2 separate regions of the Homo sapiens genome follow, and region 1 is linked to region 2. A link means that fine-mapping ties the variant in region 2 to the expression of a gene that starts in the linked region. Tissue or cell type: whole blood. Region 2 holds a variant in brackets; the other region holds the start of a gene. All regions are shown on one strand. Distances are from middle to middle.

Region 1 (8,418 bases), 22 kb after region 2:
CCATCAGATCTTGTGAGAACTCACTCACTATCACCAGAACAGCATGAGAGTAACCGCCCCCATGATTAAATTACCTGACACTGGGTCCCTCCCACAACACGTGGATATTATGGGAACTACAATTCAAGACGAGATTAGGGTTAGGGATGGTGGCTCATGCCTGTAATCACAGCACTTTGGGAGGTCGAGGCAGGAGGGTCACTTGAGATCAGGAGTTCAAGATCAGCCTGGCCAACATGGTGAAACCCCGTCTCTACTAAAAATTAAAAAAAAAATTAGCTAGGTGTGGTAGCATGTGCCTGTAATCCCAACTACTCGGGAGGCTGAGGCAAGAGAATCACTTGAACCCAGGAGTGGAGGTTGCAGTGAGCCAAGATCACACCACTGCACTCCAGCCTGGATGACAGAGCAATACTCCATCTCAAAAAAAAAAAAAAAAAGATGAGATTTGCGTGGGGACACAGCCAAACCATATCACAGGGTTTGTCATGTTGGTCAGGCCGGTATCAAACACCTGGCCTTAAGTGATCCACCTGCTTTGGGCTCTCAAAGTGTTGGGATTACAGGTGTGAGCCACAGTGCCCGGCCTGTAGACCTATTTTAAAACCACTACAGTTAGAGAACAATTTTTTAAACAAATGGTTTGGGGGAATACCATGAGCTATTTTTAAAGGAATAAAAGTTAGATTATCATTGCAAAATAAATCCAAGAAAATTAAATTATTTAATGAAAAAAGTAAAATAGTCAAACAAGTAGAAAAAAGTAAAGACAGATGAATTATATGATCTCAGGATGGGAAAGATGTATGAAGTAAAAAACAATGGAAGAATACAAAAATGGAAAAGATCAATAGTTTTACAAAGGACTAATATCTACATTGTGTGAAGCACCCTTTTGTGAAATACCTCAGTAAGAAAATGGACAAAGGACAAACAATAAGCTACCATACATACACATATGAAAACATACCATGATGATTTGGGCACATGGAAGAAGGACAATCACATACTGTCATGTAGTGTTGTGGGAAAATTGATAACCATTATGACAATCATTTCTTGATTATGTGCCATGCTCATGTGTTAAGTAGCTCTATGCGTGTTATTTATAGCAATTTATATATATTTTTTAATACAACATGTGGAAGCACTATATTAATTTTCTAGTTGAGACACAATTAGATTAAGCAATTGGCCAAATCTCTCAGCTCATAGGCAGCAGGAGGGTCAGGTTATCCATTAGGCACAGTAGACACAGTGCCTCAGGCTTATAACACTTTCGGGGGCCCATAAAAATGTTTTAATTTCTTTTAAAATCAGAAGGCAAAAAATTGAATATTTAGGTCAAAGAAAATATTTTAATGTATAATGTTAATATCTTTTTCTTCATACCAATGCAGTAATAAAATATATTTTGTAGTATTATTTTATGGAAGATGAGGCCCACACAGGTATAAGCACCTAGGGCCTGTGAAAGTCAGAATGTGGCACTGGGTGGCAGAGCTGTGTTTTGATGCTGGGCGATGTGATACCTGAGCCTATGCTCTTTCTGGAAGGTAGTTGCCAATATGTTTCAAAAGGGCTAAACTTGTTCATACTTTTTTATTACTTTTAATAATTTATCTAAGACAGTTAATAAGGACATGAACAATGGTTATGGAATACTATTTATAATATTGTTCATTTGAAACCAAACAGTCAATAACAAAAGGCTGGTTCAATATTGGGTGTCAGCTTGAGGACTAGGTGAGTACTAAGAGCTTCTGAACGGGGAGGAAATTGAGCAATGAGGGGAGCTGAAAGTGAGACACAGAGCAGGAAGAGGAGGCCTGCATGCATTCTGGAGAAGGAGTCCAGATCCCTGCTGGGGAATACCTACGGAATTTCTGAGGACGTGTTTGTAAGCACATTATTGCATCTATTTAAAGGGACCAGACAGCAAAAGCAAAAAGATGAAGAAAATCTTAGTACATGTTTAAAGCAGAGATGAGTGGGCACATATGGGGCACTGTGAAGAGTTTTTCATAACAGGAGAGATAGAGCATGTGAGCATCAAAGGAACCTTGAATATCACGTTAATCTTTGTCAGGAGAGCTCCGAAAAGCCAAAGAATGATTTTAAGCAGTGGAATGACACAGATGTATATTTTCGAATGATCTTTGTGGATATAATGTGCACCAATTTCAACTATGAAGCCAGAGGACAAGAACTAATGCATGGAGGTAGGCGGGAATGTGCATTGTTCAGTCAAGAGATACTTGTTGAATTCTGTACACACTCATGAAGTGTTGGGGTTGTTTTTGGTACACAGTTCTTTCAAAAAGCTCAGTTAAAATGGAAGGGGAGAGAGAACCAGAGGTTTTAAAATCAAGGGAAAATTTAGGACCTAATCTTAAAACGTGATTATGCTGAGGAGTTGTAGGCAGTGGAGAGGGTGAAGTTAAAGATGTGCCAAGGACCGCCCACAGTGGGGAGCAGGCAGTGGAGAGGAGCAGGGACATCTAGCCTCCGAGATAGAAGGAAAACTAGTAAGTCTGGGTGTGGACGTAGATATAATCTATGGGGGTTGGTCAGGTGGTTGGGCAAAAGCTGTAGAAATCCATGCCTGAAGGCTTCTGCTTCTCTGAAGTAGAAACCGGGTCACCTGGTAAGCAATGTGGTCCCACTGACTTCTATTTGCACATTGGCCTTTCTTCTAAAAGCAATACACATAACCAACAGTACTTTTCTAAACTAGTTGACTTTTCTGTAAAATGCAGACAGTAGACACTACTTTGTCAGATTGTTGTGTGCGTTAATTGTGCGGACACGTATACTCGGTCAATAAGTATCTGCTTTATCACCGGGCTGATGTGAGTGAGGACTAGGTGGTGGGGCTTCCACAGATGAACGTTTTGATTAATAAAAAATGGACTGAAAGTCTTCGGGTATGACCAATGGCTAAATGCAATTATTTACTCTTGCAATGTGTTCGAGGTCACCCAGCTAGGTCAAGGAGTATTTATGGACAGCCTACTTTTGCCCCCGGACCTTAAGAAGTCCTGCTCCGGGATCAGCCGCCGACCGGAAAGTCAAATTAGCAGTGCCCAGCGCGAGCTTAGAGCAGCCTCTTCCCAAATCTCAGCGGCGGCCCCGCCCCTTCCACACGTTCAGGCCCCGCCCCTCCCTACTATTGGCTGTCCGTCCCCCTCCGCTAGACTGCTCGGAAGACCCGGAGGAGCGGAGTTTTCCTAAGGCAGCATCCGAGCGCCCTCGCTGCGCATGCTCGGGGGAGGCGGATTCCGGGTCCGGAGTTGGAGGCTTTGGGCGGCCGCGGCGTAGCGCGCGGTGCCGGGGCCGGCGGGGAGGCGCGCGCTTAGGGCGCGGCGCCGGCGACGCGGCCACGCGGCGCGCTCCCGAGGAAGGGAGGTGTGGGGTCGGCTGGGGGTGGCGCGTGGACGGGGTGGGGGTGGGGGGAGGGTCGGGTGTCGGCGAGCTCCGCGTGCGGGTTCCGAGTGGCTGCTGGCGGCCTGGGCTGCCGGGGCCGACGCCTGGGTGGCTGCTGCCGCCGCGCCTGCTGCGAGATGGCGATCTTGGGCGCGGAAGGGTGAGGGCGCCCGCCGCAGGAGGAGGTGCCGCTGCCGTGGCCGCCCGGCTGCCGGGAGCCGACAGCTTCGCGCCGGGTAAGGACGGCGCGGCGCGGGGCTGGGGGTGCGAATGGGCAGGGCGGGAGGGGGCACGGGCCCTGAGCCTTGGCCGCGGTGCTGGGCGCCCGGCGCCGTCCGCCCCCGGGCTGGACCCTCCTAGGACCCGTCGGGGGACGGTCCGCCCTACCTTGGCTACCTTCTCCAGCCCGGGAGTCGGGAGTTTTCTGGGGTGGGGTCACGGGTCTTGCCCGGAGTTCGCCCTGGCAAAGGCCTGTGCCAGTGATCCTGGAGCGGAGCGAAGTGTTTCCGTGACTCTGCAGCCGCAGTTCTTAGGCTTCCTTAGCCTTCTCTTCGCCTTCCTCCACCTTTCCCTAACACCTCCCTGAAAACACAAATACATGGACTCATTGCCCGTTCCCTGACTTTCACCCCAATTTCAGCGTTGCAAACCAAGGACTCCAGCTTTGGAACGTCTTTTTCTGACATGTTTTTATCACTCTCCGTTCTTCACCGACTCTGCAGCTCCCCATCCCCCGCCCCCCCAGCGCAACCCCCACCTCCACCTTTTGTGACCTGGTAGGTTCCAGTGACCTTGCAGATTTTACCAGTCCTTATCTTGTCTGTGACTTACAGACTCTCCTTTCATCTTCGTGTTCTTTTTTTAAAAAAATTTAATTTTGTAGTTTGCTCCTTACCTTTACGACCTTTAAATGATCAGTCTTGTTCACAGTCCTTTCTTTGCTCTGCCGATTTGGAGTTTTCTCTGCTGTGGTAAATATATGAAACCTTCATTACCAAAGAAGAGTAGTGTCTGTTATAATTTTGACATTTTTACTCTTTCAGAATAAAATATTTTCCAGGGGCTTGATTTTGCCTTCTTTTTCTATTTGATAAGTTTAACAAATTTTTTTCTGTGTGTGTGTAGGTTAATGTGGAACAAGATTTTGTGTTTCTGCTTTAAAATGTTACTGGTAATAGTAGTGGGAAAAAAAATCATGTCCAAAATTATCTTTGTTTTCCCCGTTTGGTGTTTTTACCTGAAATAGTTGGTTTACAGTTACCTGCATTTTTTTTTTTTAACAAGAGTTCATGTTTATGTGTAAATCCACTTTACCTGCCTCACCAAATCTGTGTGTATTATACAAGCAAAATGCACCTTTTAAAGAAGAAAGTCGTTCTTTTATTGTGTGACTTGTTTTTAGCCATCAAGTAGTAAATTAGCTGCAACTAGAAATGATCATTTTTCATAAATGGTTAGTATTTTAAAAAATGGAAAGTGTAGTGGCCAAGTATTGGGAGCTACTCAGATTGAGAATTGTAAAGTATGTGGAATAGTTCTTTGGGACATAGCTTATCAACATTTTCAGATAGTTCTTACCTTAAAATGTGAAACTGCTGGTAAGATCTACATCAGGGTTTTGAAAAGCAATAATTATGAGCTACCGGCATAATACAGGATGTCGCAGATAAAGTTTCTGCCTTCAAAGAGATGGTAATCTTTGCTGTTTACCCCACGGTGGCTGAAATTTCCTTTACTTCCTTGTACAGTTGTTAAGCATTTACTGCATAATTGTGGGAGGTATTTTGGGAAATACAAAGATGAACCGATTAGCAATTTCTGCCTTCACACTAATTAGGTAGATAGTGCTATACACAAATGCCTTATTTGTCTTTTAATATATAAGTTTCATAAATGGTACCAAAATCCTCTCAGAAGTCAACTTCAAAGAGAGTAGAGCTCAGATCTTACTTGGCAAGGTAGGGATAAGAGGGTTAGTTTGTAGAGCTCCTGGCTTCTGAAATCGTGGTTTTGAAGGACGATTATGACTTTGGATAGGCAGGAAAGGTAATCCTAGCAGAGAGGTATCTCTAAGAGAGCACAGAGTTCCTGTTTGGGGAAAGGCAGGTAATTATGTTTGGGTGGAACATAAACTTATTTGTACCAGGATAAAGGGTGATAAAACTTGAAGTAAAAATTTGGACCAGTTTATGGGTTGTTTTTAATGCCAGACTTATGACCTTGGATTTACCCGGTGGTGGGGCTTCCACAGATGATTTTGAATTGGGAGTGAAACAATTTGAACACTTTGTTTCAGAAGGATTAGTGGGATAGAGGTCTGTAGTGTGAACTGAGGTAGGGAGACCCTGGAGGTAGAAAGACCTCCCAGTTGTTGTAGTCATGGATAGTGAGGATCTGAGCTGTGGTGCACGCGAATGGAAAGGAAGAAAGGAAGTCGAATAGCCAAAATTTGATGAGAGGGCAAATGAAAGTAAAAATAACTGATTCTGATCCAGGTTGGTTGGGAGAACAGTGGTACCATTTTGAGCAAGATCATGAAGCTTTACCCTCAGCATATGTGTGCTACTTTACAACTTTTTGGAGATTACTAATTCTTGGTAAAATGCTGGCCTGGAAAATTTCCATATGCGCCTATGCTTTGTGGATATAATTTTAGGGGAGTCCATGGAACACCTGAAAGTCATCCATGACACTCATCTCAGAATTTCTTGGAGCTTTTTTTATTTTCGAGGCAGGATTTCTTTCACTCCTGTCCCTGTGGCTGGAGTGCAGTGGCGCCTTCTGGGCTCATTGCAACCTCCGCCTCCCAGGCTCAAGAGATTCTCCTGCCTCAGTCTCCCGAATAGCTTGAACTACAGGCGCTTGCCACCACACCCGGCTAATTTTTGTATTTTTTTTTTAGAGATGGGGTCTCACTATTTTGCCCAGGCTCGTGTTGAACTCCTGAGCTCAAGTGATCAGCTTGCCTTGGCCTTCCTAAGTGCTGGGATTACAGCGTAAGCCACCCTGCCGGGCCTACTGGGAGCTTTTTAAAACAGTAGAACCTTCAGGTTCTTCTGTGTACTGATAAGAACTCTTACTGTAGAGATATGCTGTATATATACAGAAACACAATATTACATTTGTGTTGTGGTTTACAGTTTACAGAGAATTTTGACTAATGTTATTTGCTATTATATTACACAATAAACTATTCCTGGAGTTTAAATGATTTGCCTGAAGCATCATTCAGCTGGTGGGTAAAGTGGAATCAGGAGATTGTTGACAATGATGGTGTTCTTTCATGTATGAAGATAATGCAGTGGCTTTACCATCAATTAAATATAGTTACTGCCTTTAAATGACCTTGTCAGTAAGACTAGATGATCCCACAAGATTCCTTCTAGTTTTTAACATTTTGTGATTCTCGAGTCCTAGACTTTCATCAGAGTATCTACTCTCCTTGTTTAATATGTGCATGAGAGCTGGTGAGTCTGAGGGATGAATTGGGTAGAGAAGAGCAGTTAGCAATATCAGATCATTCATTTGGATTGTTACTTTCTTTGTATGTCTCACTTTGGGCTGGGGAGTAGGGAGGAGAGAGGTGATGTAAGTGAAATAAGAAACTTTAAGAACTTTATTGGGAGGCTGAGGCAGGAGGATGGTGTGAACCCGGGAGGCGGAGCTTGTAGTGAGCCGAGATTGCGCCACTACACTCCAGCCTGGGCAACAGAGCGAGACTCTGTCTCAAAAAAAAAGAACTTTATCTTCTCTGTTCATTTATACCTTCAGAATATTCTTTTCTTTCAGGAAGCCTTTATCAAATAAAAATGGAGACTTCACAATGTAAATGAAGATTCCTACTCAATTTTTTTTGGGTGGATTAAGTAGCTAGCTAGTACGGTTAAAGTGTAGTGCGATTGGTAAACAGTTGACTTTTCTGCACCTGTAAGATTATCTCCCTGGTAATAGGTAATCATAGCATGTTATTACATGTTAATAAACTTTGATTTCATAATTATTAGAAAGACTGTTGTTTTTTACTCTTTGTATAAAAATATGATACAATTATAATGAGCATTGGAAAATCCAATAAATTGCCCTTTATAGTGGTATCCAAGGAACTAGTTACTAATACTTAATGGAGGAAAAATGATAAAAACATACACAGATGAATTTTATTGTTTTTGCTGGCATTAAGAATTGTACTATACCTTATGTTAGTATAGCATTTCACATTTGTAAATAATAACTATATTTATCATTTGGTTCTCATGACAACTGATAAGTTGGTGTGTTAGGAAGTAATAACTGCTTTATATTTTATTTTATTTTATTTTATTTATTTATTTTTGAGACAGGGTCTTGCTCTGTTGCCCAGGCTGGAGTTCAGTGGCACAGTCATGGCTAAACTGAAGCCTAGACCTCAGCCTCCCAAGTACTTGGGACTACAGGTGTATGTCATGACACCCAGCTAAATTTTTAAAATTTTTTATAGAGATGGGGTCTTGCTGTGTTTCCTCAGGCTGGCCTCGAACTCCTGGACTCGTGGCCCTCCCACCATGGCCTTCCAAAGTGCTGGAATTACAGGCGTGAGCCATCGCTTCCAGCCAATCATTGCTTTTTGGATGAATATGCTGAGGCTAAAAAAAAAGTTTAAAAAGTTAAATTTCCAAAGTATGTGGCTAGTTAGTGGCCACAATTAGAACTACAACTAAAACCCTTATTTTTGTTCCTATGTCAGTATTCTTTTCCCACCAGACTTCTTACTCTTCATGTACAATGGAACATCATTAGTTAAGAGCTGTATGTGAAGGATTTGAATTTACCTGTTTGGAATGTGTTAAACTTTTGTACCGTGTAGAGGTAAACTTGTCAGTTTTTTCCTTTGTGTTAAAATGGTAATCTCACTGCAGTGGCTATTGGTAGGTGATATTTAAATTTGTAAGCATTGTACCACAGAATAGTTATTCTCCTGTCAAGGATAAAGCAAAAGTTGATTTCTTATCTGGA
Region 2 (8,267 bases):
TTAATTGTTTTTAAATCTCACCTTTATGCATGAATAGATGCATAAAAATAAAAATGAATCATCTTGACAAGAGACTAGTAATGACTTTTGCCTAACTGCTTCAGGAACCATCTTCTCTCTCTAATGAGAAAATATTTTTACACTGAACTAAAGAAACCTCATATTGGGCAGGGCTTATATATGATACACACCAATACACTGGAAAATTGGACCTAGACCACATTATCATGGTATGTTTTACAATTAGTTGAGTCATAAATAATTCTTCATAATGGAGTTCTGAATATCTTCTTCCAATACCATAGAACTAATGTTGTTTTTTCAAAGAGATGGAAAATTATAAAGCCCACTAAAACTTAAAACTGCTTTCTTAGTTTTAGCAGTCCTTTTATGAATTTTTCATTTCAAAGAGGATTTGCAAGGTGACAATAGTTTATCAAAGTAATTAAACTGATGTGGTCATCAAAATGGTTGCCACAGCAGTCATTAGTGATATAGTTCTAGCTGGAGAAGGAAAAACTTTAAACTTTGAGAGTTTAAACTTTGAGAGAAGGTAGAGGTTCCTGGAGGACTTATACAGATATCAAATTGGCTTTTGGAAATATGAATCTGAAACCCAGGAGCACACAGGGTTCAACATACAGTTTGTAAGTGGAGACTACCAGTGATCAAGGTGGTTGTGGAAATAAATATATGGAACTAATTTATCAGGAAAGGGGTTATAGGAAAGAAAGAATTAAAGCTCTAAAGAGTTTATAAGATGAAGAGAATTTAAAATGGAGCCCCAAGGAGGCCAAGGCAGGAGGATGACTTGAGCCCAGGAGTTCAAGACCAGCCTGGGCAACATAGGGGAACCTCATCTCTATAAATAATAAAAAAAAAATTATCCAGGAGTAGTGTGTGCCTGTGGTCTCAACTACTTGGGAGACTGAGGTGAGATGGGAAGATCACTTGAGCCAGTCGAAGCTGCAGTGAGCTGTGATTGCACCATTGCACTACAACCTGGGTGATGGAGTGAGCCCCTGTCTTCAGAAAAAAAAAATGAAGCCCCAAGGAACATCCACCCAGAAGTGGTGGTTGAAAAAAGAAGGGAGCGTGATCATAAATGAGACCAAACAGGAGACAATAGAGAGTAACATGAAGAAAACCAAAATAAAATGATACAGAAACCAAGGAAAAAGGAAGACACCAGGAGAGCTTGTTAAGAATGTAAAATATAGCTTATGTAAATTAAAAACTAGTAAGTGCCTAAGACGTCATCACTATGAAGGACAAAGTTCACCTGAATTAAGGTGAGGACAGTAAAGTGTTATGAGGAGGGGCCTGGTTGTAGGACTTGTGATTCTCTTATAACAACACTGTAGAAGTGACGCAGCTTGACTTTTGAGACTAGGAGGGAAAAGGCAGTATAGCTTCTGCCTTAGTTGCTGGGATGCTTATCTTTGGAGTCCGGTGAGCTTCTGTGGAAGAAGCCTAACTACCTGAGGCTGTCACAATAAGAGGAAGCCCAAGCCAAGTGGAGAAGCTATGTGTAAATGCTTTGGTAAGTGATTCCGGAGGGATTAAGGTCCCACCGAAAAGCCAGCATCAATTTGTCTCCAGGTGATTCCAGACTCCAGCGATCAGGTCACCCTCAGCTTTCAAGTCTCCTTTGTTGAAGTTCCAGATATTGGGAAGCAGAGACAAGTCACTCCCCTGAGCCCTGGTCTTGTTTCTGACCCACAGAATCCATGGCCATAAGGAATGGTGTTGTAAGCTACTAAATGTTGGTGCAATCACACAGCAATAGTAACTGAAACATCACTGAAAGAAATTACATCTCCAGAGGGAAAATATGTAATTTTTATGATACAACAATTTTTAAAGGATGTTAAATTGCAAAATATCTTCCCAACTCAAGCTCTAATCTTTCCAAATTTGGGGCATAGATAAAACTCAAATCTGCTGTATCTTTTCACAAGTTTCCCAGGGTTTACAAGAAGTAGCTCTTACTATAATTTCCTGTTACCTAATCTCCAAAGCCTATCCTAAATCCTATCTTCTCTCTGAAATCTTCAGTGACCACTTTTGACAGAAGTCATCATTCATTCCTATAAACTCTATTGTTGTTAACTTTTTTTTTTTTTGGTAACAAACATATAGCCTATCCTATCAAATAGATCTAATAAATCTGGGGACACATTTATGTTTCTTTGTATCATACAGATTAACGATTACAGTACACTGTCTATAACAGGTGGTCAATAAATATCTGTTTGTTTATTGATGATTATTAACCATTAATGCAAATATTATTACTGGATTTTAAAGCGGATTATTTTATCCTGCAACTTAATAAAATTTACTCTTCTTGCTTTCAAAGAAAGAGATTGTGTGCATAGTCATCATATAAAGCATACATCCTCTTAGTGTCTTCAAAAGTTACTTTTGTTAATAGAATATTATTTTCACTTTGATTATGCAACCTAAAGAGACATGTATTTGAAGGATGGTGGTGTCCATGATAATAAATGTAGTCACATAACATGTTCAGAAACACTGGGCCAAGTTTTTGTTTTGTTTCGTTTTTCCTTTTTAGAGACAGGGTCTCACTCTGTTGCCCAGGCTGGAGTGCAGTGGTGCAATCACGACTCACTGCAATTTGGACTTCCAGGCTAGAGTATTCCTCCCACCTCAGCCTCCAGGGCTGGGTAGCTGGGACTACAGACCACTAAGCCTGGCTAATTTTTTGTAGAGACGGGGTTACATCATGCTGCCCTGGCTGGTCTGGAACTCCTGGGCTAAGTGATCCTGCCACCTCGGCCTCCCGCAACGTTGGGATTAGAGGCTTGAGCTGCCACGCCTGGCCTGGACCAAGTTTTTATTCACTCAAACAATTTTCTAAGAATGGAAAAGGAAATTGGGAGAGGAAGGAAGACTGACTCAGCGGGAGGCTGTTTGTTAATTAGTAAACAAGTGCTGTATACATATTGAGCCAAGTGGCTGCTTTTCAAAAAAGCAAAGTACATGAGGAATCTCAGCTGTTTCCTGAAAATAGGCTCACTTACACTTCCCTGATGGAGACATGTTTTATTATCTGTGAGAACTGAGGAGTTTGTTTATCAAGAAGAAAGAGACAAAATGGGGGTGGGGGTGGGGTGAGGAAGTTGAAGTGTCATCTCGGCAGATGGCTGGAGAGAGAACGTGGTTGTGGCTGAGGCTTGTTCAATAGAAGCAAGCATATTCTTCTTACCAAAAGAACGGTTATTTTTCATTCTCGGAAAATTTACAATATCAGAATTGAGGGCAGAATTTGGGTGGGGACAGGGTGGGAAGTCAGGGACAGTTGTTTTCCAGATATGTTTAAAATGTAGGCATTCTAATCAAGGACTGTCTGGATCTCCAGGACTCTTATACCGTTCAAAGTACATGGCTGTATCACCAAGTTCATGGACTTTTGTTTATTTATTCAATAAATATTTACTGAGAACATATGAAAAGCCAGACATTGTTCCAGATGCTGAGAACACAGCACTGGGGGAGAAAAACCAGATTAAAGTCTCTGCTCTAAAGGAATTTATTTACATTTTACTGGAAGGGGCAGGAGACAGACAATAAGCAAATAAATACAATTTTCAGATGACGATAAGTATCATGAAGAAATTAAACCAGAGTAATATAACAGAGACTGACCTTGACATTTAGTAAAATGAAATCCTCTTCAAGGTACCAGACTGGCTCCACTGAGGTCTGACCCATCAGACCCCCTATAAGAATTAGAAGACAATGCATTCATCCTTATTGGACGATAGCTCTGAAGTCTTCTAACTGGTCCTAGACCTCCTTGGCTACAAAAGGCTCTTTAGGAGCCAGAAGTAGGAATGTTGTCCAGTAGCTCTGAGCTGCTATGAAATTATAGGCCTCTTTCAGCAGACACTCCTTGATTGAAATAATGGCTCCCTCCAAGCATGCACTGATTTATGGTCTGCTGGATTGTTTTTCTTGATTGTCTCAATGTTGTTGATATCAGATTCCATTTAACTTTGAGCCTCCTCTTCTTTCTCTACTGCCATCCCCACACTATACTGGTTGCTTTCTGTTGCAAGTCAAGCTTGCCTAATCCTACACAGGGCCTAACTCTGCCTAGCTATTGTGAGTTGGATGGAACATGCTGCTGACATGCCCCA[C/T]AATGATGACATCCATGATAAACCTGGTTTTTTGATTTCCTTGTGTCAGCACAACGATTTTGGCCAACATGTCTGTTCTTACAAATGTTCCAGCAATGCCTTCTAAATCTGTACTATGCAGAATATTTTGCCAACTGAAGTTAAGATGTTATTATTTGAACACTTGGTGGTAGGGCATCCTGAGTAAGATATCTAAACACTGGGCCTGCTAACTGGCAGAGAAAAACTCAGTGCATTACAAAAAATGTCAACAGTCTGAGAGGCATTCATGTGGGCATGAGTAGAGGAAGCACAGGCAGCCATGGGAATACCTAGTTAAGACCTGTTATGTCAAGGGTGTGGTCATTCTACCAAAGAGTATAGGGTTCCCTGAAATAGCTAAGCAGCTTCTCATTCCAAAACCATTTGCCTGGGGTGTTGAGAAAGACATTCCAATAGACAAGATGAAAAGGGAATTTATTTGAAGGATACATGGAAATCTCACATAATCCAACTGTAAATGCTGCCACTAGGCCTCATAAATGTTGAAAACAATCTTCAAACAAGCTACTTTCTCTGCTTTTTTCTTTCAGGAAACATGATTTCTTTTCTGCATCCCTCTGTACTTGAATTTCATTCTGCTTCATGTAGCCAGGCTTCTTTTACCAGGGTCGTCATTTCAGTTCCTGGGTAAACTTCAGCTTTACGTGAGCCCCTGCCCTGCTGTGAAGCAATTTGGTTCAGACTCGACCAGATGTTACAGCTCCAGCCCACCACTGATTACTAAGTCAAACTCTATGGCTTTTAGTTTGAATTCTTGTGAAAGAGAATTTAATTGGGTCAAGTGAGCTTTGGGTTGTTTTTCCACTTACCTGTGACTAGCCATTGGGGCTGGAGAATTTGTAATCCTGTGCTACAAACACAATAGCCACGTGTGTGGTTGGGGGAACATTTTCTTAGATGGTGAACACGAAGCAAATGATCAGCATTCAGGTCCAGTGAAGCTGTAAAGTCTAGCCACCACCCACAACTACCAAAGAGGCCACTCTTTTCAGGCCAACTGCGTGATAGGTGGTAGTTACCATAAAGATTCTGATGCCTCTAACTTTTTCTTTTTTTTCCTTTTTCTTTTTTTTTTTTTTTTTTTTGAGACAGTCTTGCTCTGTCACTCAGGCTGGAGTGCAATGGAGCAATCATGGTTTGCTGAAGCCTTGACCTCCTGGGCTCAAGCAATCCTCCTGCCTCAGTCTCCCAAGTAGTTGGGACCACAGTCATGGGCTACCATGCCTGGCTTTTTTTTTTTTTTTTTTGGTAGACAGGTTTTGCCATTTTGCCCAGGCTGGTCTTGAACTCCTGGACTCCAGCAATCCATCCACCTTGGCCCCCTAAAGTGCTGAGATTACAGGTGTGAACTACCGCACCCAGGCACCTCTGACTTATATGAATGTTGGAATTGCTCATTTTTGGGACAGAATGTAGTTCTAATTTGTCCACTTTCCAAAGGAAATTAAATTGAAGACATGCTAAAGATAGACATTTTGTAAATCTTGATCTAACAGAATTAGCATAACAAAGCAAGAACTTGTGAAGCGATAGTGAACAAGAATGTAAATAAAAAATAGTTGATGGTTTCCAGCTTCATCCATGTCCCTGCAAAAAACATGAATTTATCCTTTTTTATGGCTGCATAGTATTCCATGGTGTATATGTGCCACATTTTCTTTATCCAGTCTATCATTGACGGGCATTTGGATTGGTTCCAAGTCTTTGCTATTGTGAACAGTGCTGCAATAAACATACGTGTGCATGTGTCTTTATAGTAAAAAGATTTATAATCCTTTGGGTATATACTCAGTAATGGGATTGCTGGGTCAGATGGTATTTCTGCTCAGCAAACTAACACAGGAACAGAAAACCAAGCACCACATGTTCTCACTCATAAGTAAGAGTTGAACAATGAGAACACATGGACACAGGGAGGGGAGCATCATACACCGGGGCCTGTTGGGGGGTGGGAGGCTAGGGGAAGGATAGGATTATGAGAAATACCTAAATACCTAATGTAGATGACAGGTTGATGGGCGCAGCAAACCACCATGGCATGTGTATACCTATGTAACAAACCTGCACGTTCTGCACACGTATCCAGAACTTAAAGTATAAAAAGAAAAAATAGTTGATAGGCTAGAAAGGGGAGTCAGGCTTCCTTGCACTTGCACATGCTCCCTAGCATGAAGAACTGAAGTCTTCTCTCTAGCATGCCTTTCCCTTTACCATCTATTTGGCAAAGTCTTATTCATTCTTCAAGAACTGTTATAGATTAACCATCACTTCTTGTAGAATGTCTTTTCTTACAGGGCTTACTTTCCTCCCTAATAGGCAAAAAGTATTTCTCTTCTTTTGTCACAGGCATTTAGATTGAATTTCTGTAGGGCAGAAGCCTTGTTTTATTCTTCTTTGAATGCCCCTCAGCATATGCTACAAAACTTACATAGATTTTTAATGAATACTTATTGATTAAAATCATATAACCAAATAGATGTGGTTAATAACCTCACTTTACACAGAAATTAAGCCAATAGACTATAGATCTAGGCTCTACTGAAGTGCTGTACACCTAATTTTAGACAACACACATCACCTACACTATTCCCATTATTTCATCCAGTTGACAGATATATCAAGGGAATAATTCTTATATTTGTCTTACCACAAAGAGTGCAGGTGTTTGTACTCAACAGGATCAAAATAATACAGGATAAAATGCAAATTGTATGAGAAAGTAATTATTCTTTCATTCAAGTAATATTTATAGTGTACTTACTTTGTGCCCCACATTAGCTATAAATGTTGTATACTAAGGCAGAAAGTGGAGAATGTAAGCTAAGAACTTGATAAAGTAAACATGTTATATAATGATCAGATAATAATTCATACTGAATAAAGGCTAAAAGAAATTATTACAAACTCTCATAGAACTATTCACTTCTGTTTTGCAACAACAATGTGCTTGTAAATTATTTGTTGAATATCTGCCTGCTTTTTTCCCTGGGCTATAAGCTCCAGTGGAGCCTAGTCCAGGTCTAACTCATCAGTATTCTACTCCTGGTGTGTAGCACAATGCCAGCACATAATCAAGTATTTAATAAGCATATGCTGAATAAATAGCGAATAGATGGATGTATAGGGAGAAAAACAACACCAAAACTTGCATTTTAAAAAGAGTCCCCAAATAGGAAGAATTATAAAAGGGAGTATCAAGCTATCCTTTATTGAAGACAGTTTGAGAAAGGCAAGTTGTTCAAGAACATGAGTCTTTAAAAGTAAATTTAAAGAATAATTTAAAGGCTAAATTTATATTCGACTTTGGCAAAGACTAACAAGCTCAATAATTTAGTAATTTGCTTAACAACTAGATGTTGAATCCCTACAAAGGGCCAGACATTGTACTGGGTGCTAAAATGCAGGAGAGAATAAGATAAATTTGATCTCTGTTCACATGGAGCTTACAGGAATTCAGAAGATACTAGAAGGTTCGTAGATTATTTTCCTAACATGTAAAATAAAGCAAAACTCTATTATAAAAAGTAATGCATATCTGATCAAAAAATACCTATTAGATCTTTGATAATATTTGGGCAAGTATACTTACTAGTGACACACTAGGTTCTATGGTTTCCTGTGTAGTCTGTGACTGTTCATGCTATTACTCCTTGCTGGAATCTTTTCCCACCTAAGCCCCTCTTTTACTTGTCTAAATCACTCATCTTTCGGCCAGGTTCGGTGGCTCATGGCTGTAATCCCAGCACTTTGGGAGGCTGAGAGGGACAGATCACTTGAGGCCAGGAGTTCAAGACCAGCCTGGCCAACATGGCAAAACCCTGTCTCTACCAAAAATACAAAAATTAGCCGGGCATGGTTGTGGACACCTGTAGTCCCAGCTACTTGCGAAGCTGAGGCACAAGAGTCACTCAAACCCAGGAGGCGGAGGTTGCAGTGATCTGAGATTGTGCCACTGCACTCCAGCCTGGGTGACAGAGTGAGACTCTGTCTCAAAAATAAATAAATAAATAAATAAATAAATAAATAAATAAATAAATAAAATTAATCACTCATCTTTCA

The links.
Region 1: it holds the start of WWP1, and the variant in region 2 is fine-mapped to the expression of WWP1 in whole blood (INTERVAL, PIP 0.92).

The regions. Positions count from the first base shown.
Region 1 is chr8:86,339,269-86,347,686 of GRCh38, forward strand. It overlaps WWP1 (WW domain containing E3 ubiquitin protein ligase 1), which reads left to right and starts at 3,279. Exons shown (of 25, transcript NM_007013.4): 1 at 3,279-3,662. WWP1-AS1 (WWP1 antisense RNA 1) reads right to left here and starts at 5,166. Exons shown (of 6, transcript XR_007060994.1): 1 at 5,005-5,166; 2 at 4,322-4,392; 3 at 3,814-4,008. RefSeq lists a silencer at 3,370-3,829.
Region 2 is chr8:86,317,390-86,325,656 of GRCh38, forward strand. No RefSeq gene overlaps it. Among named protein-coding and RNA genes, the nearest start is that of WWP1, 21 kb to the right of the region's middle. The variant C/T (reference allele first, on the strand shown) is at 4,167.